Linked DNA regions of Homo sapiens: region 2 is linked to region 1. Evidence: fine-mapped expression QTL. A gene starts in region 1. The other region holds a variant in brackets. All regions are shown on one strand. Distances are from middle to middle.

What was found. PIP is the estimated chance that this variant, and not a neighbour inherited with it, causes the effect.
Region 2: its variant is the best candidate, but not a certain one, in a credible set for the expression of RPRD2 in lung (TOPMed, PIP 0.61).

Annotation. Positions count from the first base shown.
Region 1 is chr1:150,361,219-150,366,590 of GRCh38, forward strand. RPRD2 (regulation of nuclear pre-mRNA domain containing 2) reads left to right here and starts at 2,929. Exons shown (of 11, transcript NM_015203.5): 1 at 2,929-3,701. The coding sequence starts at 3,497. RefSeq lists enhancers at 1,224-2,166, 2,147-2,216, 2,377-2,686, 3,437-3,716, 4,200-4,489.
Region 2 is chr1:150,290,429-150,295,800 of GRCh38, forward strand. It overlaps MRPS21 (mitochondrial ribosomal protein S21), which reads left to right and starts at 3,433. Exons shown (of 3, transcript NM_031901.6): 1 at 3,433-3,470; 2 at 3,907-4,021. The coding sequence starts at 3,939. It overlaps LOC105371434 (a long non-coding RNA gene), which reads right to left and starts at 3,392. Exons shown (of 2, transcript XR_922129.4): 1 at 3,204-3,392; 2 at 2,872-3,069. RefSeq lists an enhancer at 3,721-3,780. The variant T/C (reference allele first, on the strand shown) is at 2,856.

The DNA.
Region 1 (5,372 bases):
TAATTTTTTGTAATTTTAGTAGAGAGGGGGTTTCGCCACATTGGTCAGGCTGGTCTTTAATTCTTGACCTTGTGATCCACCCCACTTGGCCTCCCAAAGTGCTGGGATTACAGGTGTGAGCCACCGCACCTGGCCCTGTATTTTTAGTAGAGATGGGGTTTCACCATGTTGGTCAGGCTGGCCAGTTTCTAACTCTTGACCTCGGGCGATCCACCGGCCTCGGCCTCCCAAAGTGCTGGGATTACAGGCATGAGCCACCGCGCCCGGCCTTAGGTTGATGATTTCTTACAAAAGTAAACATATTCTTACCATATGATGTAACAATTGTGCTCCTTCGTGTTTACCCAAGGAGTTGAAAATATATTCACCCCAAAAGCTGTACAGAGATGTTTGTAACAGCTTTATTCATACTTGCAAAAATGTGGAAGCAACCAAGATGTCCTTCAGGTGAATGGATAAATAAAACTGGCACATCTGGACAGTGAAATATTATTCAGCACTAAAATGAAATGAGCTATCAAGCCATGAAAAGACATGGAAGAAACTGAAATGCATTTTTTTTTTTTTTGAGGTGGAATCTCATTCTGTTGCCCAGGCTGGAGTGCAGTGGCCTGATCTTGGCTCACTGCAACCTCCGCCTCCCAGGTTCAAGTGATTCTCCTGCCTCACCCTCCGGAGTAGCTGGGACTACAGGCGTGCGCCACCATGCACGGCTAATTTTTGTATTTTTAGTAGAGACGGGGGTTTCACTATGTTGGCCAGGCTGGTCTCGAACTCCTGACCTCGTGATCCACCCACCTCGGCCTCCCAAAGTGCTGGGATTACAGGCATGAGCCACCGTGCCCCGCCTGAAATGCATATTATTAAGTGAAAAAAGCCAGTCTGAAAAGGCTACATACTGAATGATTTCACCTATATGACATTCGGGAAAAGGCAAAACTATGAAGACAGTAAAAAGATTAGTAGTCGCTAGGGGAATAAGGGGGAGGGAAGGATGAATAGGTGGAACACAGAGGTTTTTAGAGCAGTGATACTGCTCTGTATGATACTGTAATGGTGGATACATGCACATTTGTCCAAACTCAAGGTATAACACCAAGAGCGAACCCTAATGTAAACTATGGGCTTTGGGTGATAATGTGTCAGTGTAGGTTTGTCAGTTGTAACAGATGTATCGTTCTGGTGCGTGACATTGATAATGGGGGAGGGTATTCATGTGTGGGGGCAGGTGGTATATGGAATTCCTTGTGCTTTCCACACAATTGCCGTGAATCTAAAACTGCTCTAAAAATAGTCTATAAAAAAGTGGGTCTTTGGCTAGAGTTACAGAAAAAAAAAAAATGTGGGGTCAGGACCAGGCATGGCGGCTCAAGCTTATAATCCCAGCACTTCGGGAGGCTGAAAGCAGGAGGACTGCTTGAGGCTAGGAGTTTGAGACCAGCCTGGGCAACATAGGGAGACTCCCCCTCTCAAAAAAATGTTGTTGTTGTTGTTTTGTTTTTTTAGCTAGGTGTGGTGGTGCAGGCCTGTAGTCCCAGCTACTTGTGCTGCTGAGGCAGGAGGACCACTTGAGTCTGGGGGATTGAGGCTGCTGTGCGATATGATAGTGCCACTGCACTCTAGCCTTGGCAGGGACAGAGCGAGACTGTATTTTAGAGCCTTTGCACTTGCTGTTCCTAATGCCAGCATGTTCCGCTCCCCGTCTCGCATATCTGCTTGGTTGCTTTTTTCTCAATGTTCAGATCGAGTTATTTCTTTCGAGAAGACTTCCTGGTTCACCATACCACCATTCTTATACTGGCGCGTGCGTGCCGTGCACACGTACACACACGCGCGCACACACACACACCCCTTTCTCCCTTACCCTGCTTCACCTTTTTACAGAATTTAATACTGTCTGAAATGTACTTGTTGGTGGTGTCCTGCCACTAAATCCCGGAGGGAACGGATTTTTGTCTGTTTTGCTCCCCATGATCTAAAACAGTACTTGGCACAAGAGGTTCAACAACTCGTTGAATTAATGAATAGTGGACATGAACTTGACAAAACAGGTTCCCTGCCTCAAGAGGCATGGCCGCAGTGAGGAGACGTTAAAAGAATTAAAACTGTATATGTTTAGTGGGAACACAGGAGCCTTTAAATTAGCTCAGAGGATTTACATAGATACCTGCGATAAAATGGTTCGTATAAGGTTCATATAATAGTTACGTAAGACTCTTGAAAACTGTAATGTATTATGCAATTTTAAGATTGTATCATAGCTGGCGAAAATGAGGTCACATCTTGCCATTCTTTTTTCGCCTCGAAAAATTTTATGAGGAAAATTTCCTTTCACTTCCTCATTTATTTCCTTTTCCTGTAACCTAAATGGTCAAGCGGCTGTGAATGTTATCTTCTATGGGCAGCAATAAATACGGTTTGGTGTCGGAGTCTGCGTAGTGAATGGCTCACTGGATCTGGCGCATGCGCATCTTTTGTGGTGCCGCAAGATGGCTGCCAGCCATTTTGTCGCGCGTTGCTCCTCCGAGGAGTTGGGGGCGATGGCTGCAGCCCCCTGAAGACTAACAGTGGTCTCAGTGGTGGGAATTTTCTGTCTCTGTTGTGTGAGCTGAACACACCCAAGAGAGCGGCCAAAAGCAGCAAAGGGCGGGGCAGGGGAACCCCCCCACCCGGCTAACCTTAGTTATACCAGCTCCCTCACCCATCCCTCCCAGTTTTTCCTTCCATCCCGTTACACGCTTATCTTCTGCGCAGGCGCAAAAATAATCGTAGCGCCTCCTGGGCCCTGGGGGCTTCAGAGCTCCTGCGCGCGCTTGTGGTTCTCCACTCCTGATTGGTCAGGTTGCCCCGCCATCACGCCTCCCTCTGCTTTCAAGGTTGAGAAGGAAGCAGGGGTAGGGGGGTGGGGCCAAGTGGCGCGTGCGCGATACTGTTGCTGCCCCTTTGCTGCTATTGCGTTGCAAAAAAAATCCTGACTAGGTAGCCTTGGACCTTTTCTGTGCTAGCGAGTCTAAAGGAAAGAAAGATTTCTGCAACTGAAGGGGCAGTCGGGTAGTATTACATTTAAGATATTAACGCCCGACCTGGCTCACAGGAGTGTGGGAACAGGGGCGGGGAAGGGCCTTAGCACTGAGAGCCGAAAAGTATAAAACGATTAGTTTCGGCGTCAGGCGTTTTGAAAGGCTTTGCAGGTCCTGTTTTCTGCGTAATTTTTCCGTGATTACTGACTGGTTTAAACACGACCCCTTGAACAATATTGATAAAACCTCCGAGACCCGCAGCCCCTCCTTGCAGCGTGTAGGAGCTGCCAGCGTGCCCAGCAGCTGGTGTTCCCGTCCGTACCTCCAGAAGAGCCCAGCGCGTGCACCATCCCCACCCCCTAGCTTCCCTCCCCACCTACGGCTTTCACGCACTCGCAGTGATTGTTTTGCCCGCTCCCGCCGCCGCCGCCGCCGCCGCCGCCAGAGGAGCAGCAGCGCTTGTGCAAACCGGGAAGATGGCGGCCGGCGGCGGCGGAGGCAGCAGTAAGGCCTCCTCCTCGTCGGCCTCTTCGGCAGGGGCTCTGGAGTCCTCGTTGGATCGAAAATTCCAGTCGGTAACCAACACCATGGAGTCCATTCAAGGCTTGTCGTCTTGGTGTATAGAGAACAAAAAACACCACAGTACTATCGTCTATCATTGGATGAAGTGGCTCCGGAGATGTGAGTGTTGGGGGTGACTAGGGAAGGGAAGACTGGGGAAATGGAAGGAAGTGTGGCCTGAAACGCTTGGGGTTTTCCCACGGAGCCGCAGCATTTGGTTGGGGTTGTTCACATTAAAGGTTTGACCCCAGTGGTCCCAAACCCAGACTCCATTCCTAGCCAGGATTGTCCTGAATTGCAGGAGACTCATTTCTTGGGTTTTTTAGCCATTGAATTGTTGTGACCTTGGGCCGTTGGGCCCAGATCCATGGAGATTTACGTATATTGTTTTTAATATTTCAGAGCCTTGTAAGGTGTATTGATTTTTCCGAACCTTCGCGGAAATTGTAGCGTCTGTTTATTTCTTACAGGCCTTGACGTGTTAATGATTTCTGGCTTTCCTGATGGTAGGCGAGCTGTGGTTTTAAGCAGTAGTAAATCCAGTGATGTTTAATGAGGAGTGCCTTGTCTGGATGAATGTATCTAAAACTTGTGATGTGTAGTAAGGAGAGCCTTACCTGGATGAATGTTAAGAAGCAGCATGAGCTCTACATAGATCTGAGGCACCACCGGGTTTTCCCTGTACCTGTGTTTGCTGCAATAAAATACAGGTTTCTTGGATACTGACCAGAAACAACTGCGATACAGTAGTCAGTATCATCGTTAATACCTTCAAATATAAAGCGTGTCCAGTTCCTCTTTTTTTTTGAGACGGAGTTTTGCTCTTGTCGCCCAGGCTGGAGTGCAGTGGCGCGATCTCGGCTCACTGCAACCTCCACCTCCCGGGTTCAAGCGATTCTCCTGTCTCAGCCTCGCGAGTAGTCGGGATTACAGGCGCCCGCCACCATGTCCGGCTAATTATTTGTATTTTTAGTAGAGACGGGGTTTCATCATTGTGGCCTGGCTGGTCTCGAACTCCCGACCTCAGGTGATCCACCTGCCTCGGCCTCCCAAAGTGCAGGGATTACAGACGTGAGCCCCCCGTGCCCGGCCCCGTTACTTTTTAATTACCTGAAATACCTTTTTACACAATTGAGTTGATCTCATGGGTAATGTGCACAGGAAATGTGCTTTTTGAATATGTAGTACCTTTTTCTCCAGTTATGTTTTTTTTGTCTTTATCCTGGAGATTTTTCCATTTTGCTGCTTTACTGCAGAAACGAGCTCTGTTAAAGCATGGATTGTTTGCAGAACGTTTCAAATCTTATAGGAGGAAGTGTGGAGAAGTTACTGTTTCCTGCTGAGAAGAGAGGGTTAACTCATACTCCATATACATCTATTAGAATTTTTCTTTGCTTCCTGCCTGCGGCATTTCACCAGTGAGACCCATCATCCAGTTATTCTGCCTTATTCCACTTCTGCCATTGCTCCTGTAGTGTTTTGATTTGTTTACCTTTTAGAGAACAGATAGATAAAACTTGCAAAATTATAGGCCCCATGCTTCGAACTATTTGTGTTTAAAGTTTTGGGAGGGATGTTTTGTGGTTCTTTGAATAATAATGCAGAGAAATTAGTAGATACCGGACAGAATTACCTGTGTTTACCAATAACCGATCAAAGAGTTATTTTCTTGCCCAGAGGTAAAATTATAACGTGCAAAAACATCAAATATGATAACAGTCATCATTGAAGACTCACATGTTAAGTATCTGCTATGTGCCCAGTCATCTCATTGTACCTTAAAATCGTCTG
Region 2 (5,372 bases), 71 kb before region 1:
TCCTCTTCTGTTAGTGCTATCTGTGGTATCACTAAGTACCATAGTTTTTTGTTTTGTTTTGTTTTTTCCTGGATAACTAGGCTTAAAATTTGGTGCCATCTGGTCACCAGATCCTTTTTATTCTTTATTTGGAATATCTCTTAAAATCCATTTCTTCCTATCCATTCCATTGCCACCAGTCTGGTCTAGACTTCACTGTACCAGTAGTCTCTCTTCTAATCCCTTTTCGCTGATAACCAAGTTAATTTTCCTAGAACAGTGCTTTGCATATCATATCCTATTCAAATTCTTCAATGGCTCTCGAATGCTTTGAGAAGAAAGTCCAAAATCTTTAGTCACAGTCTCTATTTTTCCCTGTGCTCCCCTGCATGATCTCTCTGTTGCAGGTTTTTGTTTTGTTTTGTTTTGACTCCTGAACACTACACCTTTTTGCCCCTAAGCTCTTGTTCATGCTGTTCACCTTGCCAAACCTTTCCTGCTTCTGTTATCTAAACCCTGCCCTCTTTCAACGACTAACTCAAGTCCATCCTATCATTCTTTCTGTTAAACATGATCTATACACTCAGTGTTTGGCCGTTTACTCCATTAAATGGAATCATGTACATAAAATACCTAGTGCAGGGTTTGGGGCCTGGTGGGGTGGCTCACACTTGTAATCCTAGCACTTTGGGAGACCAGCCTGGACAACATAGTGAAACTATTAAAAATACAAAAAATTAGTCTCTACTAAAAATACAAAAAATTAGCTAGGCGTAGTGGCATGTCCCTGTAATCCCAGCTACTCGGGAGGCTGAGGTGGAAGGATCACCTGAGCTCAGGAGGTCCAGGCTACAGTGAGCTATGATGGTGCCACTGCATTCTAGCCTGGGCAACAAGAGTGAGACTCTGTTTCAGAAAAACAAAAACAAAAATAAAAAACACCCACCTAGTACAGGGTTTAGTATATAGTAGGCTCTCAAAAATGTTACTCTCCAGCTGATCCAATGGTAGTGGTTAACAGAACTTATTAACATCAGTTCCTGTCTCCCTTCCTTTCTTTCAAAGTATCTTCATATTTTTTTTCTCTTTTTTTTTTTTTTTTTTTTGGAGACAGAGTCTCGCTCTGTCACCCAGGCTGGAGTGCAGTGGCACCATCTCAGCTCACTGCAACCTCCACCTCCAGGGTTCAAGTGATTCTCTTGCCTCAGCCTCCCAAGTAGCTGAGACTACAGGCGAGCGCCGCCACGCCCAGCTGATCTTTTGTATTTTTAGTAGAGACGGGGTTTCACTGTGTTAGCCAGGATGGTCTCGATCTCCTGACCTCGTGATCCACCCGCCTCAGCCTCCCAAAGTGCTGGGATTACAGGCGTGAGCCACCGTGCCCGGCATATCTTCATATTTTATTCTATTTGATTCCCATGACAAATTTCGTGAGACTGAACAGGGCAAAATTAGTCCCATTTTAGAGATGAGGAAATAGAGTGAGTCTGGCAAGGGCCAGATAGTAAATATTTTAGGCTTTGTAGGCTTTATGTCTCTATTGCAACTACCCAATTCGGCCATCGTAGCCCAAAGCAGCCATACATAACACACAGTCAAATAAGCATGACTGTAGGTCAACAGCCTTATTTACAAAAACAGGTGGAGCAGGATTTGACCTGTAAACTGTAGTCTCCAGACCCCTGGTTTTAAATGACTTCTTCAAGGTCATAGGCCTGATGAGTATTAGAATTGGGATAGAATCCAGATCTCCCAACTTTGAAGCCAGTGCCTTTCACCACATTATGCTGTGGCATATTTTATTTATTATTTGTTTGTTTATTTATTTTTTGAAATGGAGTTTCACTCTTGTTGCCCAGGCTGGAGTGCAATGGTGCGATCTCGGCTCACTGCCACCTCCGCCTCCCAGGTTCATGTGATTCTCCTGCCTCAGCCTCCCAAGCAGCTGGGATTACAGGCATGTGGCACCACGCCTGGCTAATTTTGTATTTTTAGTAGAGACAGGGTTTCACCATGTTGGCCAGGCTGGTCTCAAACTCCTGACCTCAGGTGATCTACCCGCCTCAGCCTCCCAAAGTGCTGGGATTACAGGCGTGCGCCACCGCGCCTGGCCCTATTTATTTATTTATTCATTTTTAATTTTTTGAGACAGGGTCTCACTCTATTGCCCAGGCCAGGGTGCAGTGGTGTGATCAAAGCTCGCTGCAGCCTTGACCTTCCAGGCTCAGGTGATCCTCCCCCTCAGCCTCCCAAGTAGCTAGGACAACAGGCCATGCCACTACACCCGGCTAATTTCTATATTTTTTGTAAAGACGGAGTTTTGCTTTGTTGCCCAGGCTGGTCTCGAACTTCTGGGCTCAAGTGATCCGCCTGCCTTGGCCTCCCAAAGTGCTGGGATTACAGGTGTGAGCCACCGCGTCCAGCCCATATAATTTATTTTGCATTTATTATATACTACTTTGTTTTAGTATCTTTTATGTGGTCCTAGTGGTCCAGGAGGCACTAGAGTGGTATCAACAGTATCTGACACAGAGTAGTCATTCAGTGAAAGTTTGTTGACAAGCATAATAATGTCCCAATCTAGTTCTATTTCGTTACTTTGGACCTGGCTTACTCTGAGGTGGGCTTAAGTGTTAGTGTAAGTTATTAGCATCAACTGATGATGCACACGTCTGTGTCTGTGTCTGTGTGTGTGTGTGTGTGCGTGAGCGTGCGCGCGCACTCTCTCTCTAAGGGAGGTACGTTTTCCTACAGCCATTAGATGTTAACTTACGTGAATAACCATAAATGGATATGTACAGGTAGCATACAAATAGGAGGACGGGTGTCTCCACAGCGAAGAAGAAATTTAAAAGGAGGTTTTTCAGTAGGTCTCA[T/C]TAGCACGAAAAGGCATAGAAGCTGACATAATTTTTTATTCTAAACCCTGCAGGTGTTTCCCATATATCTTTATTGATTTCACTTTATGTAGTTAAATTAGTGGGAAGATGATATAGGAAACTCACAGTATGTTTATTTCTTTTCCTTAGCACTTAGGCAGATGACGTGTATGAATCAATCTATTTTTCGTCCGGAGAGCAGATCTCAAAGAGTCTGTCCTTTCCAAAGAGAAAACAGGAAGCATCCTCAGGAAGCGCCTACTTCTCTTGTTTTCCATCGAGAAAGAGAAATGGCTCAAATATTTATCAAGGATTTCACAGGATTAAGGGGTATGAAATTGGGCTGACCTTCTCAGAGGCCGAAGGACTTCGACTCCATGAGAGGGCGAGAAACGTGTTTCGGGGGAATTTAAGTCAATGAGTATTTTGCTTTGTCAGGTGTAGAGTCCAGGCCCGGGGAAGAGAGGCAGTCAACAGAGGCCAGAAAGGACGTTGCTATGGTTTCCACGCACGTTGTCTCCCTCGGCCTGTTTCTTTGCGCGGCGCTGGCGATTCCGTAATTTCCGCTTCCGGTAGTGAGAACCCTTCCGGTGGGCTAGGTACTGAGCGCGCGAGGTGAGGAGTTGTGCAGGGTTTGGGGAAAGGAAGGCTGGCTTGGCGAGAGGGCAGGTTTGCGGGCTTTCGCCCCCTTTTCCAAAGACCAACAAAGAGTCCTTCCCCAACTCCCAACTCAACCCCTTTTGGAACTATGTGTGGTGGTTGGGACCCTGTGGCGCATCCTTGTCGCTCGTGTCCTTCTCATGCCCGGCGACGCGTCTTTGTGGTAACGCCCTGCTGCCATCTCTTTTCTTCTCTATGCGAGGATTTGGACTGGCAGTGAGAATAAGAGACAACGATTCACGTCTACTTTCTAGGATGACTTCCATGTGCTCCATCTCGCGCGTCCCTGAGCATGTTGAATTTCCAAATCCTAAATAAGCCGCGCGGTGTAGTTTGTATTATGTTGCGTTTCTCTTTCTGCTTTCCTCGCCCTTTCTCCATCATCCTTTAGGCTCTACAGAGTGAAGGTTTAAATCCAAGGTCATGGCAAAACATCTGAAGTTCATCGCCAGGACTGTGATGGTACAGGAAGGGAACGTGGAAAGCGCATACAGGACCCTAAACAGGTAACTGTTAAGGGACCAGAATCATGCCTAGACTCTCTGGGAAGTGCGGTGGTTATTCTCTCCCTTCCCCTTTCGTTGATTGTTCTCAAAACAGTGCCAGCCCAGGTGTTCACAGTCTCTTAAAACGTCTCAGCCCCTCAGTTTATTATCTTAAAAATGAAGTTCTGGGCCGGGCGCGGTGGCTCACGCCTGTAATCCCAGCACTTTGGGAGGCCGAGGCGGGTGGATCACATGCGGTCAGGAGTTTCAGACCAGCCTGGCCAACATGGTGAAACCGTGTCTCTACTAAAAATACAAAAATTAGCCGGGCGTGGTGGCAAACGCCTGTAATCTCAGCTACTCGAGAGCTGAGGCAGGAGAATCGCTTGAACCCGGGAGGCAGAGGTTGTAGTGAGCCAAGATCGAGCCACTTGCACTCCAGCCTGGGCAAGAGTGAGACTCTATCTCAAAAAAAAAGAAAAAAAGTTCTTCCTCAAACCTAACTGTATGAATTGTATTCAACAAGTAATCACCCCCCGCACCTCCCCGCTTTTAATTTTAATTTTAATTTTTTTTTTTTTTTTTGAGGCAGAGTCTCGCTCTGTCACCCAGGCTGGAGTGCAGCGGCACGATCTCGGCTCACTGCAAGCTCCGCTTCCTGGGTTCACGCCATTCTCCTGCCTCAGCCTCCTGAGCAGCCAGTACTACAGGCTCCCGCCACCACGCCCGGTTAATTTTTGTATTTATAGTAGAGATGGGGTTTCACCGTGTTGGCCAGGATGGTCTTGATCTCCTGACCTCAAGTGATCTGCCTGCCTCTGCCTCCCAAAGTGCTAGGATTACAGGCGTAAGCCACAGCGCCCGGCCCCGCTTTTTAAAAATTGAGACAGGGTCTTGCTGTGTCACTCAACAATCCTCCTGCCTCAGTCTCCTGACTAGCTGGGTCTAGTGACGCACGCCACCACCGCAGTTAATTTTTGTATTTTCTGTACAGAGGGAGTCTCGCCATGTTGCCCAAGCGTAATGACTCCTTTTATGAGGAACCTGAATTCTTTAGAAGACTTAAAAAAGAGCCCAAATGGAAAATCAAGATGTGAAGTTGCTAGGAAGCGGGAACGTAGTATGATAAATAGAAAGCTGAGGGAGTGATTGGTGTGGGACAAAGCTAAAGGAAAAGGTGAATTCAGATTGGCATCCTAGAGAAGCAGGCAAAAGATGGGAAAGCTCACTGGGTGGGATGACTCACACCTGTAATCCTAGCACTTTGGGAAGCCTAGTGGGGAGGATTGCTTGTTGCCAAGAGTTCAAGACCAATCTGGTAAACATAGCAAGACCCCATTTCTAAAAATATTAAGAAGAAAGGGAAAAAAAG